Homo sapiens: one gene and its partners. Changing the gene in region 3 together with the main gene of any one other region gives a genetic interaction. Each region holds a gene or a part of one and is shown on either strand. Other genes may lie near its edges.

What was found.
Region 1: changes in CTBP1 (region 3) and DAZAP1 together harm fitness more than expected from each alone (negative genetic interaction), as found in Homo sapiens cells (one large-scale study listed by BioGRID).
Region 2: changes in CTBP1 (region 3) and UBE2J1 together harm fitness less than expected from each alone (positive genetic interaction), as found in Homo sapiens cells (one large-scale study listed by BioGRID).
Region 4: changes in CTBP1 (region 3) and EZH2 together harm fitness less than expected from each alone (positive genetic interaction), as found in Homo sapiens cells (one large-scale study listed by BioGRID).

What each region holds. Positions count from the first base shown.
Region 1 is NC_000019.10:1,431,586-1,433,884, reverse strand, and holds part of DAZAP1 (DAZ-associated protein 1), read right to left. Parts: intron 1,372-2,299; coding exon 1,195-1,371; intron 147-1,194; coding exon of another isoform or gene 58-146; intron 1-57. UniProt on the Homo sapiens protein: RNA-binding protein, which may be required during spermatogenesis.
Region 2 is NC_000006.12:89,328,723-89,332,222, forward strand, and holds part of UBE2J1 (ubiquitin-conjugating enzyme E2 J1), read right to left. Parts: intron 1,266-3,500; coding exon of another isoform or gene 1,236-1,265; coding exon 957-1,235; 3' UTR 1-956. UniProt on the Homo sapiens protein: Catalyzes the covalent attachment of ubiquitin to other proteins. Functions in the selective degradation of misfolded membrane proteins from the endoplasmic reticulum (ERAD) and is essential for cells to recover from ER stress.
Region 3 is NC_000004.12:1,224,843-1,229,013, forward strand, and holds part of CTBP1 (C-terminal-binding protein 1), read right to left. Parts: intron 3,502-4,171; coding exon 3,357-3,501; intron 725-3,356; coding exon 518-724; intron 1-517. UniProt on the Homo sapiens protein: Corepressor targeting diverse transcription regulators such as GLIS2 or BCL6. Has dehydrogenase activity. Involved in controlling the equilibrium between tubular and stacked structures in the Golgi complex.
Region 4 is NC_000007.14:148,825,292-148,828,791, forward strand, and holds part of EZH2 (histone-lysine N-methyltransferase EZH2), read right to left. Parts: coding exon 3,449-3,500; intron 1,976-3,448; coding exon 1,873-1,975; intron 1,342-1,872; coding exon 1,163-1,341; intron 1-1,162. UniProt on the Homo sapiens protein: Polycomb group (PcG) protein. Catalytic subunit of the PRC2/EED-EZH2 complex, which methylates 'Lys-9' (H3K9me) and 'Lys-27' (H3K27me) of histone H3, leading to transcriptional repression of the affected target gene.

The sequences.
Region 1 (2,299 bases), on a different chromosome or scaffold from region 3:
CGTCCACCTCCCGGTGCAGGCGGGTGGGAGGACCCTGGAGAAGGAGGCGGCACCTACCTAGGCCACATCACTGCTCAGCCTGACCATAAGACTGTAAACAAAGTGTGGGCCGCAGCCCGGCGGGGCTGGAGAATAGGAACCCAGGCCTGGCAAGAGACGAGACCAGGGTGACCAACCCAAGCAGCCGCCACCAAGAGCAGCGGCTGACACACGCCACGCCCCAACCGGGCGCCTCACACCCCCCTGCCAGTCTCAGACACGCCAGGGTTTGGTGGTGAGTGGGTCAAGAACCCACACATGCGGCAACCTCGGCCCAAGGCCTGGGCGTGGGGGCAGGGGAACCACAGCCATGCGAGGTGGGTGGGCGGGCACCTCGGCCGAACACAGCTCCCACACCCCGGCCTCCACCAGGCCTAGAGGAAGCGTGTTCACAGGCACCCCGGAAGCCCGTGGCCACCTGCAGACAGGTGCCCCATGTTCTCAAACCCTGCTTGTGAATGACCCCTGGTGCTGGAGGAGCTGACCGTAGTTGGAGCCCTGCCCACTGAGGCCACCGCGTTGGTCCTGAGCAAGGCTGCTGTGACTCCTGGCTCAGTGCAGGGCGAGAACTACTGACATGCAGACCTTGACCCATGCTGACCCCGCCCCCCCACAAGCTCCTGCCCCGGAAGCACATGCGCTGCCTGCAGATCACGTCCAGGCAGACCCAAGCCACGACAGCCATCCAGTCCAGGGTGAAGCCCACGTCCAGGCCACGCCTACTACAGACCCAGCTTCTGCCCCAAGCGGGGTCTGGACCCAGCAGGAGGCTGATGACGCCAGAAACTGGAACCCACCAAGGGGCCAGTGCACCCGGGACCCACACCGAGGGCCTGAACCTCTAGACAGTGATCACAGCTGCCTGCGACTCACTTCCCTCGACCCAGTCGCCACTCAGGTTCCCACACATGCAGGCCCTGCAGCACCTGCTGTATGACGAGTGCTCTGCTGCGACAAGACTCCCACGCTCCCTTCTGCTGGACCCGAGTTGCCACGAGATCTCTCCAACAACCCCCACACCCCCCTCTCCTCCCTCTCCCCTTTCCCACCAGGTAAAGGCTGGGGAGCGTCCAGCAGGGGAGGAAGCAGAAGAAGGCAGGCCGTGCCCAGGGTCCTGGGGCCAGCGGGGACGCGGCATGGCAGGAGACCACTTACCATACTGACCATAGGGGAAGTCTGGCTGAGCTGTCGGGGGCTTGCTCATGTCCGGGGCAGCCTGAGACGGAGGCGGTGGGAAAGCCAGAGGTGCTGCCCCGGGAGTGGCTGGTGGAGGAGGAACCCCCGGAGGGGCAAACTGATCTGGCGGTGGAGGTGGAGGCCCGTAGCCAAAACCTGCAGAGGTACAAGAGGGCAAGGCACAAGACACGTTGTGCAGCTGGGGGCAGACCAGCAGGAGACCCACACCCAGCCCAGCAGGAGCTGCCCAGACGGGACTGCCACCCAAACCCACAGAACGCCCAGGCCTTGTGGACATCCACAGAATGGACCACAGAGCCACGGTCCCGGGCCGCTCCCCCCAGGAAACACACACTCCTGGGAGCGTGGCGGGATGCTGAGCTGCAGCAGGGCCACCTCGTTCCTCACGGAGCAGCCGCCAGGTGGGCCTCAGACAAGAACTCAAGGAGCAAGTAACCTCACAGCAAAATTGCTCTTTCAGAAGGACAAAAACCTGCCACCATGCCCAGTCCCCATGTTTAGGAAGCTGCCAGCACAGGCAAGGGAGCATCCTGACGTGCTTGGAAGGGACTGTCATGCTGGAGGTGCTGCCGCCCTTGCCCTCTGTTGCTGGATATCAGGCAGGCCGAGGTTCCACCCAACTCCCCTCCTGTCAGTCATCTGGCCCACAGGCCTCCGTGTGCAGAGCCTGATCCAGGCCAGAGGATGGAACTGCCTGCTCCTGTACCACGGCCACGTGGAGCCTCCAAACCCCCGAGACGGGACTAGCTCACACTGTGATATGCCCCAATTGTCAAACACCCCCAGGGCCCAGGGCCCGCAGGTGAAATCAGATCACGGTGCCGTTCCTGCTGGCTGCGTGCTGTGAGGTGCAATCCCTGGCTAGGCAGGTAAGGGACGCAAGGCTCCCAGAAAGGACACCCCACGTATGGCCCATGTCCCTTCTTCTCTACTGGAGGGTGCCAAGACCTCACCCTGGGGGCCCCGTCTAAAATTCTGGATGCGCTGAGGTCAGGAGTTCAAGACCAGCCTGACCAACATAGTGAAACCTGTTCTCTACTAAAAATACAAAATTAGCCGGGCG
Region 2 (3,500 bases), on a different chromosome or scaffold from region 3:
TTCTATCACTGTTACTTGGGCCCTGAGGTTTTCTATTAAAATAGGACATGAAATATTTCAATATTATGCATATTCCTGGAATAATTAAAATTTATACTGATTATAAAGCTAGGCATATAATACATCCCAAAAGACATACATTTCAAAGCAGACCAAACATTCAAATCTTCAGATCCCCCCATTTAACTTCTGGAAGAAAACCAAGCGATCTCCTGGCTTGGGCCCTTTCTTCCTTAAAAATCTATGGAAGACTGTTTTCTTTCTTTTTAAATTTGTGTGATTATGGCAGCAGAGGGCAGGGGGTGGTGATAACAGCATATCAAAGTGGTTACAAAGTACTCCCTCTTCAAGTAGCATCCAGTGACAAAGATGTGATCTCATTTCCTCATAAATGTTTGACTGAAATAAAATTATTTTCACTGAAGAATGTTTAGGACACAAATAAAGTCACAGAATGAGCAATTCCAGTACATCTCCTATGAATGACATTTTAAGGAAGCTACTTGAGGAGTTTTGCTTTCCCTTTTCAACTCTTCTATCCCTATACATTCTACATACGTAGAAACAGAGTACTCAATAAGTGGTATTGAGTAACTAGTAATACTCATTGGAACTTAAAACATCATCTTTTATCCAAAAATTTCAAAGGGCAATATAGGAAAGTATTACAAATTTACATAAAAAGAAGATGAAACATGAGAAAAAACAAGTTATTTCCCTGCAAAGCAGATCAAATAGTGAGACAAGGAACTTTGACTTCTAGTCCCTTTAAGCAGGACGTAACTGCTAGACACAGTCTGAATGTCTAGATATATTTATACTAAACTTACAAGGATCAAAAAAAGGAATGAAGGGTAAATACAAAATAATCTTTTTGTAAACAATTCTTAGATTATACCCAATGCAGAATGTTTAATGAAGCAGTTGAGTCACAGCTCATAAGTCACAAAACCATATTATAACTCAAAGTCAAATATGTATTCGTTTGCCAGATATATTCGTCGGAATATAAGAGCTGCCAATGCCAAAGTCAGGATGACAATCAGTACAGCTGACCCACCATGATCAGTGTGGTTGTCTCTTGGCTGGTGGCCCTGGATTACATCTGGTGAAGTAGACAACCTTCTCTGACTCTGCTGCTGGGCCCGGCGCTGTCGAGGGCTCATGGAGGTATTCTTAGCTACAGGTTGGGTAGGTTGATGAAAGGATGCTGCTGAGGAATTCTGGAGTCCGTACTAGGAAATTTTAAGAAACTTTGTTTGAAACTGGCAAAGAAGATTTGTAAATACACTTGTTATCTATTCAAGAATACACAATCTCAGAGGACAACATATGACTAAGGGCAACACTACCAAGAATGATTGTTACTAATAATACATCCCTTGAGGGGCATCTAAATTTAGGTTCAAAAAAAAGTCATAAGTTAGGACAGCTTTTTGGCCTTTTAATAGTTTTATTAATATATTTAGAAAAACAATCCCTTAAAACATTGGTCTAGATGATATTTTAACACATACGCTTAATGAAAATATGTATATACATATAATGTTTTAATTAGGTTCCTATGTTTCAGATGCCTTTTGTCTCTATTTTTTTAATCATTATTTTTTTAGAGATGGGATCTTGTTACATTGCCCAGGCTGGTCTTGAACTCCTGGGATCAAGCGATCCTCCTGCCTTGGCCTCCCAAAGTGCTGGGATTATAGGCATGAACCAACGTGCCCAGCCTCAGATGCCTTTTGGATGGTATATCACTAACTAAAAATTAAGTGCCTTGATATTATAAAATTCTAAATTTTTTCCTATTTAAAACAATCATACAGCACTTTGGGAGGTTGAGGCAGGAGGACTGCTTGAGCCCAGGCATCTGAGACCAGTCTGGCCAACATAGTGAGACACTATCTCTACAGAAAAATTTTAAAACTTAGCCAGGTGTGGTCATGCCCACCTGTGGTCCTAGCTACTTGGGAGGTTAAGGCAAGAGGATCACTTGAGCTCAGGAGGTTGAGGCTTCGGTGAGCTATGATCACATGCCTGCACTCCAACCTGAGCAACAGAGTGAGACTCTCCCTTAAAAAGATAAAAAATCACATTCTTAGTTAAGTCCCTAGTGATATATATATAAATTTTTCTAGAATAACCAGCATGTGTGAGGGAGTTTTGCTTTTTATTATAAAATGAAATGGCTTATTCAGAACCTCGATCCCTACCCTGGGAAAAGGAGAAAATCTGACAGACTGCAAGAACAAAACTGCCTTCAGTGTTTTTCCCATTTCTACATTTCCCATTGCTTTTTGATGCTAAAATATCTGCATTAAAAAGCAACAGATGGCCTGATGTTATCTGAGGTATTTAGAGTTGTGGCAATCTCTTGCCTCTCCTTCAGGCTAACAACAACAAAAAAATCATAGCTTATCTGGGATTTGATGTATAACATCTCAATTAATTTATATTATACTTAATGTAAAATAACCACCCTTAGCCAAACCAGGTTTCAGTTACTTTCATAGTGGTCAAATTATATAATCATACTCTGAGATAGTTTATATGTAAATATAATTAAAAACTTAACTTGCAATTTTAGACAATTTATTGCTTGTTGGTATTTTCACTAAAAATAGTCTCAATTAATGACCTGTATCTATGAATAAGAATTCTAAGTTTTATGTACTAAATCAAAACAAGAAATACTACTATAATAACATCATTATTTGTACACTCTAATTTACTTAAACTTCTTGATTTATTTAATTGTATTCTTAGCATTTTTTAAAGTACCAATCCTAAGATTCATTCATTCAATCAACAAACAAACATTGGCAATCTACTATATAGAAGGCACTAAGCCAGGCACTGGGGATACAGTGGAGAAGCGGAAAGAGACCCCTGACCCTCACAGAACTTACATTCTGGGAAGAGAGATAGACAATAAATAATTACAAAGTAAATTACAACTGGAATAAGTATAACTGGAATATGTAACAAGGGGACTTAACATAGATTGAAAATACACAAAAGATTTAAATACATCACAAACATTAGGAGGCTGTCCTAAAAGGTGAAAAAAGATTACCACCTTCCTTTTTGTAATAGAATGCTTCTATTAGAAAAAAAACTATGAAATAAAAAGTAATTAGAAAGCTTTTTCAATATCTTGAACTAAAACATATTGACCTTAAAATTAATTCATTGTTTTCCCCTGCAATTCATAAAATTACATTGGGATCACACAAAAATGATTTAAACTCATCGCTACACACTTTTTTCTTGGACCTCCATCTTCAGTCCCCCTAGACTACCACCCTGTTCTTCTTCAACCAACTTTTCTCTGCCCAGCTCACTCTCTGAATAGGAGAGACTCACTCAAGACTATTCACTCCCACTTTACGTACGTTATTGCTGGGTAAAGGGCAAATCTATATTTGCCCAACTTCTATTTCAATTTTCCCTCACCCTTTAAAGTCTTCAATAAACTGGAGAAACAACAACAAAAAAAATGT
Region 3 (4,171 bases):
GAGGCCCACATGTGTGCTGTGGCATCTATGACATCCGTGCAGGCCAGTATGTGTACTGTGACATCGGTGTGTGATGTCTGTGTGTGCCATGATGTCTGTGTGAGGCCCACATGTGTGCTCTGATTTCTGTGTGAGGCTGTGTACTGTGACATCCGTGTGTTATCTATGTGCCCATGAAGCCCATGTGAGTGCTGTGACGTCCGTGTGTGTTATCTGCATGTGCCCATGAGACCCACGTGCTGTGATGTCTGTGTGAGGCTGTGTGTGCTGTGGCATCCGTGTACGTTATCTGTGTGTGCCTGTGTGAGACCCACGTGTGCTGTGACGTCCGTGCACGTAGGGCACACGCCTGGGACTCCCGGGCCCTGGTGCCTGTGCGCACTCAGTCCTGTCCTGGGTTGGGACCGACACCTGCAGCAGCCCCACCCCGCCCCGGGCCTCTCCTCCTGGGCACAGCTGAAGAGCGGCAGCGCCAGACACAGGGAGGGACACAGGCGTGGAGCTGCGGCCGACGCACCAAGTCCGATGATGCCCAAGGTCTCCCCGCGGATCCTGGCAGCGCCGGACGCCACCTCGCGGATCTGCTCGACGCTCTGGACTCGTGTGCCCTCCCGCAGCGCCTGGTGCAGCCAGGTGGCCCGCCGGTACAGGTTCAGGATGTGGCACAGCGTCGAGTCGGCCGTCTCCTCCACAGACGCCGCGGGCACGTTGCAGACGGCAATGCCTGTGGGGACAAGGACACGGCGGTCACCCCCGGGCCGGGCCCAGCCTCCGGGAGGACACCGGGGCCGCCGTGACTGGAGCGGGTTTGAAGCTTCCCAAGGAAGAAGCCAAAGGCCGTGTCCCCAAGGCCACCCCGGGAGGCCACGAGATGAACACGTTGCTCACAGGTCGGGCGCAACAGAGCAACTCCAGGAGCCCCACCTCCACTTTAGGTTCACGTGGCAGCACACACACGGCAACTGCTCGGTGTGTGGTAGGGCTGGGGTGTGAGACGCTGCCCTGACCCCTCCCGACTCAGCGCTGGCAGCCCAGGAAGAGACAAGCACGTGTCTCCCCGCGTCACCTCGCCACCCCGATTCCTCTCGGGGGTACCCTGCTGGGAGGCTGTGGCCAGGTCAGAATCTGGGTGCCGGCCCCGCCTGCACACCCCTACGTGGACATCCGCACATGTCCTCAGGCCTCCCCCAGGCCCAGCCGGGCCCCGAAGCCCCTTCCGCCCTCCATGCCCCACCCCTGCAGTCGGTAACACTGAAGCTGGAGCCATTCCTGGAAAGCAAGTCCATCCCATTTCTCCCGAGTGGCCAGGCACGCCCATGTGTGACCCCTACTCCCCGCTCCCGGCCTTGTCCCCAGAGACAGGCCCTTCCCCAGCCAGTGCCCCTCCCTGAGCCTATTTACCCTCATCCCTGGCTTGTCCCTGGCCAGGGCCGCCCCTGCACGGCACTTCCCACCCCATCCGGATGATTGCATTCCTGTGTCCGACTGGCCATCCGTCTCCCTGGGGAGGAGGAGGGGGCAGGAGGCCAGGACAGGGCTGCATTCATAGGCCCGGAAGCTGGACAGGACCGTGTGGTTCCGCAAGGGGTCCCGGGGGCCGGGAGAGGGCCTGATGTGGGGCGGCGCAGGCAGGGGCTGCATAGCCCCTAGACACAACTCACTTGGACGTAAAAATGTTAAACAAGGGAGACTGAGGGAGAGCCAAGCCAGGCGCCACACGAGATTGGAACAAAGACCTCCTGAGGGTGGGCCAGATCCCAGGGGTGCCCCAGACCATCCCTGGCTGAAGAACAGAGCCCAGGCCTGGGAAACTCCACGGGTAACAGAGATGGTAAACAGCAGGGACCCCTCAAAAAGCACCAGGCATGCACCCGACACCACACACCCAGGCCTGCACCCGACACCGCAGCCGGCCCTTCCTGGGACGCCACCACAGAGACAAAGGCGGGAGGAGGCTGGCACACAGGTTTGGCCCATGGGCGCCGGCGGAAGCAGCTGAAGCCAGTGCAGGAGACCCCCAGATGGAGGCATGGCTTCCGACACCACCTGCGTCCCCCGCAGGAACACAGACGGTTCCAACTTTGCAATGCCATAAACTGTATCCTAGGAAAAGGGAAGCAAAACCGTGAGGCGCTGGCCAACTGTGGGCAAGGGCAGGGTACAACCTCGCCTGTTACCAGCATCGAGAGGAGGAGAAAAAACAGACCGAGCCTGGCAGAAAACAGAAAGTGCGCTCCAAGCAGGACGGCCAAGCACCGCCCCAAGTTTGTTCTAATGAGTGTCTGTACATGGATGCAGACACATGTGCATGTTCCATGTGCGTGTAGGTGCACGGGTGCAGACGTGCGTGTTCCATGAGTGTTCCATATGCTGAGTGCACAAGCAGAGGTGCATGTGTTCTGTGTGATGAGCATGTGATCCATGTGCTGAGTGCGTGTGCACAGGTGCAGATGAGTGTGCGTGATCCGTGTGCTGAGTGCATGTGCACGGGTGCAGATGAGTGTGTGTGTTCCATGTGCTGAGTGCACATGCACGGCTGCAGATGTGCGTGTTCTGTGTGTGTTCTGTGTGCTGAGTGTGCGTGATCCGTGTGCTGAGTGCGTGTGCACGGGTGCAGATGAGTGTGCAGGATCCGTGTGCTGAGTGCATGTGCACGGGTGCAGATGAGTGTGCGTGTTCCATGTGCTGAGTGCACATGCATGGCTGCAGATGTGCGTGTTCTGTGTGCTGAGTGTGCGTGATCCGTGTGCTGAGTGCATGTGCACGGGTGCAGATGAGTGTGCAAGATCCGTGTGCTAACTGCATGTGCATGGGTGCAGATGAGTGTGCGTGTTCCATGTGCTGAGTGCACATGCACGGATGCAGATGTGCGTGTTCCGTGTGTGTTCTGTGTGCTGAGTGTGCGTGATCCATGTGCTGAGTGCACAGGTGCAGACGTGTGTGTTCTGTGTGCTGAGTGCACACGTACTGGGTTGCAACACGCTGCTGTTCCCGCTGTGTCTCGGGACAGAGACCTATGAGCCCTATTACAGCCATACACTGACGGCCCTGCCCTCACCCCCAGGGTCCCAGTACCCAAGCAAGGGGCACCAGCCAGACATGCATGCAGACCTGTGTGAAGCCACAGCTGGATTTCCTGCTGCCCAAAAGAGAGGAAGTGCCCTGAGATGAGGCTCTGTGAGGAACTGAATGGCTGCAACCTCATGCCGGCCCCAGACGGGACCACGAACCACCGCCAGCCACACCAGGCAATGTGCAACGGGGTCCTCAGTGTGGCAGTGAAGCCTCCATGGACGAAGCAAGACGGGACGGAGCTTGCATGAATGGGCACAGGAGAGAACTCGGAGCCGGCCTACCTAAATCCCCGGCCGACTTGATGTCGATGTTGTCAAAACCACTGCCAATCCGGACGATGATGCGGAGGGCTTTGAACTTCTCCAGGTCCTCCCTGGTGAGAGTGATGGTGTGGTACATCAGGGCCCCCACAGCCTCGTTCAGGACCTGCAGCGAGAAAGCACACAGGCTCAGCCCGGAACCTGAAGACCCTCGGGCTTGGCCTTCGGGGGTGGGGCTGCCCCGGCTGGGAAATTAGCCTGTGGCCCTCAGGCTTGTTCCCCAAGCACCAGCCCGGACACTGGGAGAGGCTACATGAAGGCTTCCCCGCCACGCGCGGCCCCTCAACCTCTGCCCAGGCGTCCTGAGTCCCAGCAATTCCCACCGCAGCCTCCTCAGCCGCATGTAGGCTGCAGGCCGGCACTGGTCAGAGTTGCCCGCTCCCCACTGTGGTGGCTGAGATGTCTCCTTTTGAGCGTGCGCCCCACCGAGACTCTGCTCAGCCTTGTGGAAGAAACGGGGTCCCGCCTGGCGAGGACACAGGAGGGGGGGTGCGGCCACACCCAGGAAGGACACTGAGCAGGTGCAGCTGGGTGGGGTGGCCAGGGAACCTGAGACCTGCAGGCCCGGGGATGCAGGTAGAAAGTGGTAAGTCCCCGCGGCACACAAGCACGTCGGCGGAGGCAGGCAGACGCCACCCAGCCGTAAGGATACATCCACAGGAGCATGCACTGCCCCCGTGTCGCCCAAGAACCTGCCCAGAAATGCTGCCCCTGGCTGGCGAGGCTTGGGTCTGAGCAGTGTTCACAACAGTCACGTTTTTAATTTCAGTGTCCAT
Region 4 (3,500 bases), on a different chromosome or scaffold from region 3:
ACAAATGGATGACTTACTACGAATTTTTAAAACTACCAAATCAATTTAAACTAGATGAGGAGTTAGAACAAGAGCAAGGAGGTAACAATATAATGATAATTCTAAAAATCTACTTCAAGTTTTTCTATTTTAAGATAACTAAACCACTAATATGTCACACACAAAAACAAAACTTAACATTTCCAGACCAATGTATTACATCACTCAACACATTATTAGCTGCAGCAAAAACAAGTAGAGCAAACACTTAGGAGGAGGTGAGGTACAGCTGCTTGGGCAAGCTTAAAAAGACGTTATCATTGGTGAACGAGGAGGAATAAATCTGTCAATGGTAGGCACAGGAACTCAAAACAACAAAGCAATGTGGGGCCGTTGAGTACAGGGGAAAACGATTTTACAATGGGTCAAAGCCCCTAAAGAAATTACCATGCCATAGACAGACGTACTAAAATACAATATAGGAAAAACCAAACTATAATAAGCAAACTACTCTAGGAAAATTAGGAAGTATTAAATACATTTTCAAAATATGTGCCTCAAAAGTAGTTGACGCTTTTAAACTGTGCTTAGAAGTTTCAATTACCAGGAAAATTTACTAAGAAACCACATTCCCTAGAAATGCCAGAGGAAAAAAGTATTTTTGTATATACCATACTTACATTTTCACTAAGAACATTTTACGTTTTACTTGTATTCAAATGCAGGTATTTTTAAAAAACAACTTACCCAGAGGGCAAAAAAATAAAATAAAATAAAATAAAATTACATTAAATCGACAAGCACTTACCTGAACATTTTTTTGGCCAATTTCTTATTTAACACAATTTATTCATCAATATCAGCAATGTTGCTCTGGGCTACCAGTTCATAATAATAGTTTTATTGTAAAACAACTGCTTAGTTAGCACTTACGGGGGAAAAAAAAAAAAATCACTGACCTGAATTCCATGTTAGTGGAAAATAGTAGTCCAAATGAAATACATGCAAAAGATTTCAGAGCAATCCTCAAGCAACAAAGTAAAAATAATAATACTGAGATCTAAAGATATTTGTCAAAGTAACTACAAGATTAAATGATAAATTCTAGTTGTAATAAATGATAGCACTCTCCAAGCTGCTTTAAAACATAATTCCACAACAAAGATAGAAAATGAAAACGTACAATAATTGCACTTACGATGTAGGAAGCAGTCATATTTAAAACATCGCCTACAGAAAAGCGTATGAAAGGAGTGTAAGCTTTGCTCTCTCTGAACAGATTTAGCATTTGGTCCATCTATGTTGGGGGTACATTCAGGAGGAAGTGCGCCTGGGAGCTGCTGTTCGGTGAGTTCTTTATATCTGACATTAACCAAGAAAAATTTAAGTAAACATGAAACAAAAATCACTTTTTTGAAAACAGTTTCTAAAAGGTTTCCATGTGTTACTTTTGATGTTTATCTTGCCTAAAACATAAAGGAATGGCTCTATTTAGATAAAGAGCCAACTAAATATTGTGCATGGTGTTATCAAGAATCAAATTCATCGATATGATTCAAATATATCATGGAAAAGGATATTATATTAGTTTTAACTAAACATCAAATTTCTACCAGTATCCAGATAATTTTCCTGTAAATGTACTACTGTAAATTTTATGTATATGTGTGTGTTTATGTGTATATATAAATTATACATATGTATTTATTCTATCTACAGGAAATATTTTGTAATGCAGAGTACCACAAGTACACATGTTGCTTCAAGTATCTTGCAAACACTGTAAACAAAGTGTAGTGGCTCATCCGCTACATTGATTCCATTTGTAATAAACCAAAATGGTGAGTTACATACCATACAGGGCAAGATTGCCTCAAAGGAACAAATTCTTACTTTTCCTTTAGTTCTTCTGCTGTGCCCTTATCTGGAAACATTGAGGAAATGGCTTCAAAAATTTTATCAGAAGGAAATTTCCGAGGTGGGCGGCTTTCTTTATCTAAACAGGAGAATATGAAAGGAAAAAAAGAATGGAAGTAAACAAGTTTTTGATCTTTCATTTTCTCTACCCAATTATGTCTCTATAACAAAGCTGATTTTCTAAGAAATCATCTCTATTTTGTGTTTTACTTACTTCTCACATACTTTACATGTCTGTGGAATGCCAGTCAGTCAAAAACAAAATTCAAATTCAAATATGAAAAGCTTTAAGAGCACTGGGAAGCAGAAAACCTAGGTTCTACTCCCAGCTCTGCTACTAACTGATTTTGTGACTTAGAGTGATCACTTTACCTCTTGGGTCTGTTTACTCATCTGTAAAATGAAGGAGCTGAACTAGATGATCAATAAGGTCAATAAGGTACCTTTTTGTTATTTTCTCTTTTTTGAAATACGCTTCTTAGAAATTGCTATTTCACCCGCCAAATTATTCTATTCTATGCTGCCTTAGCATGAGCTTTGCCAAGTAGAGAACACCAACTATTGACTCTGTTTCTTCCCAATAGTGTAATCTTATAAGTTACTTAACCTCTCTAAATCTATCCCCTCAAATAGAAAATGGATCTGACAGGTGGGGCGCAGTGGCTCACGCCTGTAATCCTAGCACTTTGGGAGGCCGAGGCAGGTGGATCACGAGGTCAGGAGATAGAGACCATCCTGGCTAACACGGTGAAACCCCGTCTCTACTAAAAAATACAAAAAATTAGCTGGGTGTGGTGGCAGGTGCCTATAGTCCCAGCTACTCGGGAGGCTGAGGCAGGAGAATGGCGTGAACCCAGGAGGCGAAGCTTGCAGTAAGCTGAGATGGGGCCACTGTACTCTAGCCTGGGCGACAGAGCGAGACTCCGTCTCGAAAAAGAAAATGGATCTGATAATAACATCCATCTCATGAAGCCATTATGAGGATTAAGTGAGCTGGTGCATAAGAAGTGATTAGTACACAACTTGTACACGGTGAATATCAATGTTATATATTATAATGATGCCCAGTGAAGCACACAAAAAATTACGTTCTTTGCTAGCCAAAGGAAACAAAGATACTCAAGTGAAGATAATGTTGCAAGTATTATGCTTTTTTTTTTCTTTTTTAAGGCAAGGTCTCACTCTGTCACCCAGCCAGACTGTGCAGTGGCACAATCACAGCTCAATGCAGCCTACACCTCCTGGGCTCAAGCAATCACCCTGTCTCATTTTTTTACTTTTTAGTAGAGATGGGGTCTCACTATGTTGCCCAGGTTGGTCTTGAACTCCTGGGCTCAAGCAATCTGCCCACCTTAGCCTCCCAAGTGCTAGGATTACAGAGTTAGCCACCCTACCTGGCCATAATATGTTAATTTTGATTATACTGCTATCAATGTGATATTTAACAAAGAAAGAAAAAGAGAAAGAAGAAACTAAGCCCTATTTCTACTCTTTCTACTGTTTTTGAAAGAAAGCTGTAATGGCTACACAGAATCCTAATAATCAGGCATACCATCTCGGTGATCCTCCAGATCTTTCTGCTTTTCTTCTCTTTCTTCAGGATC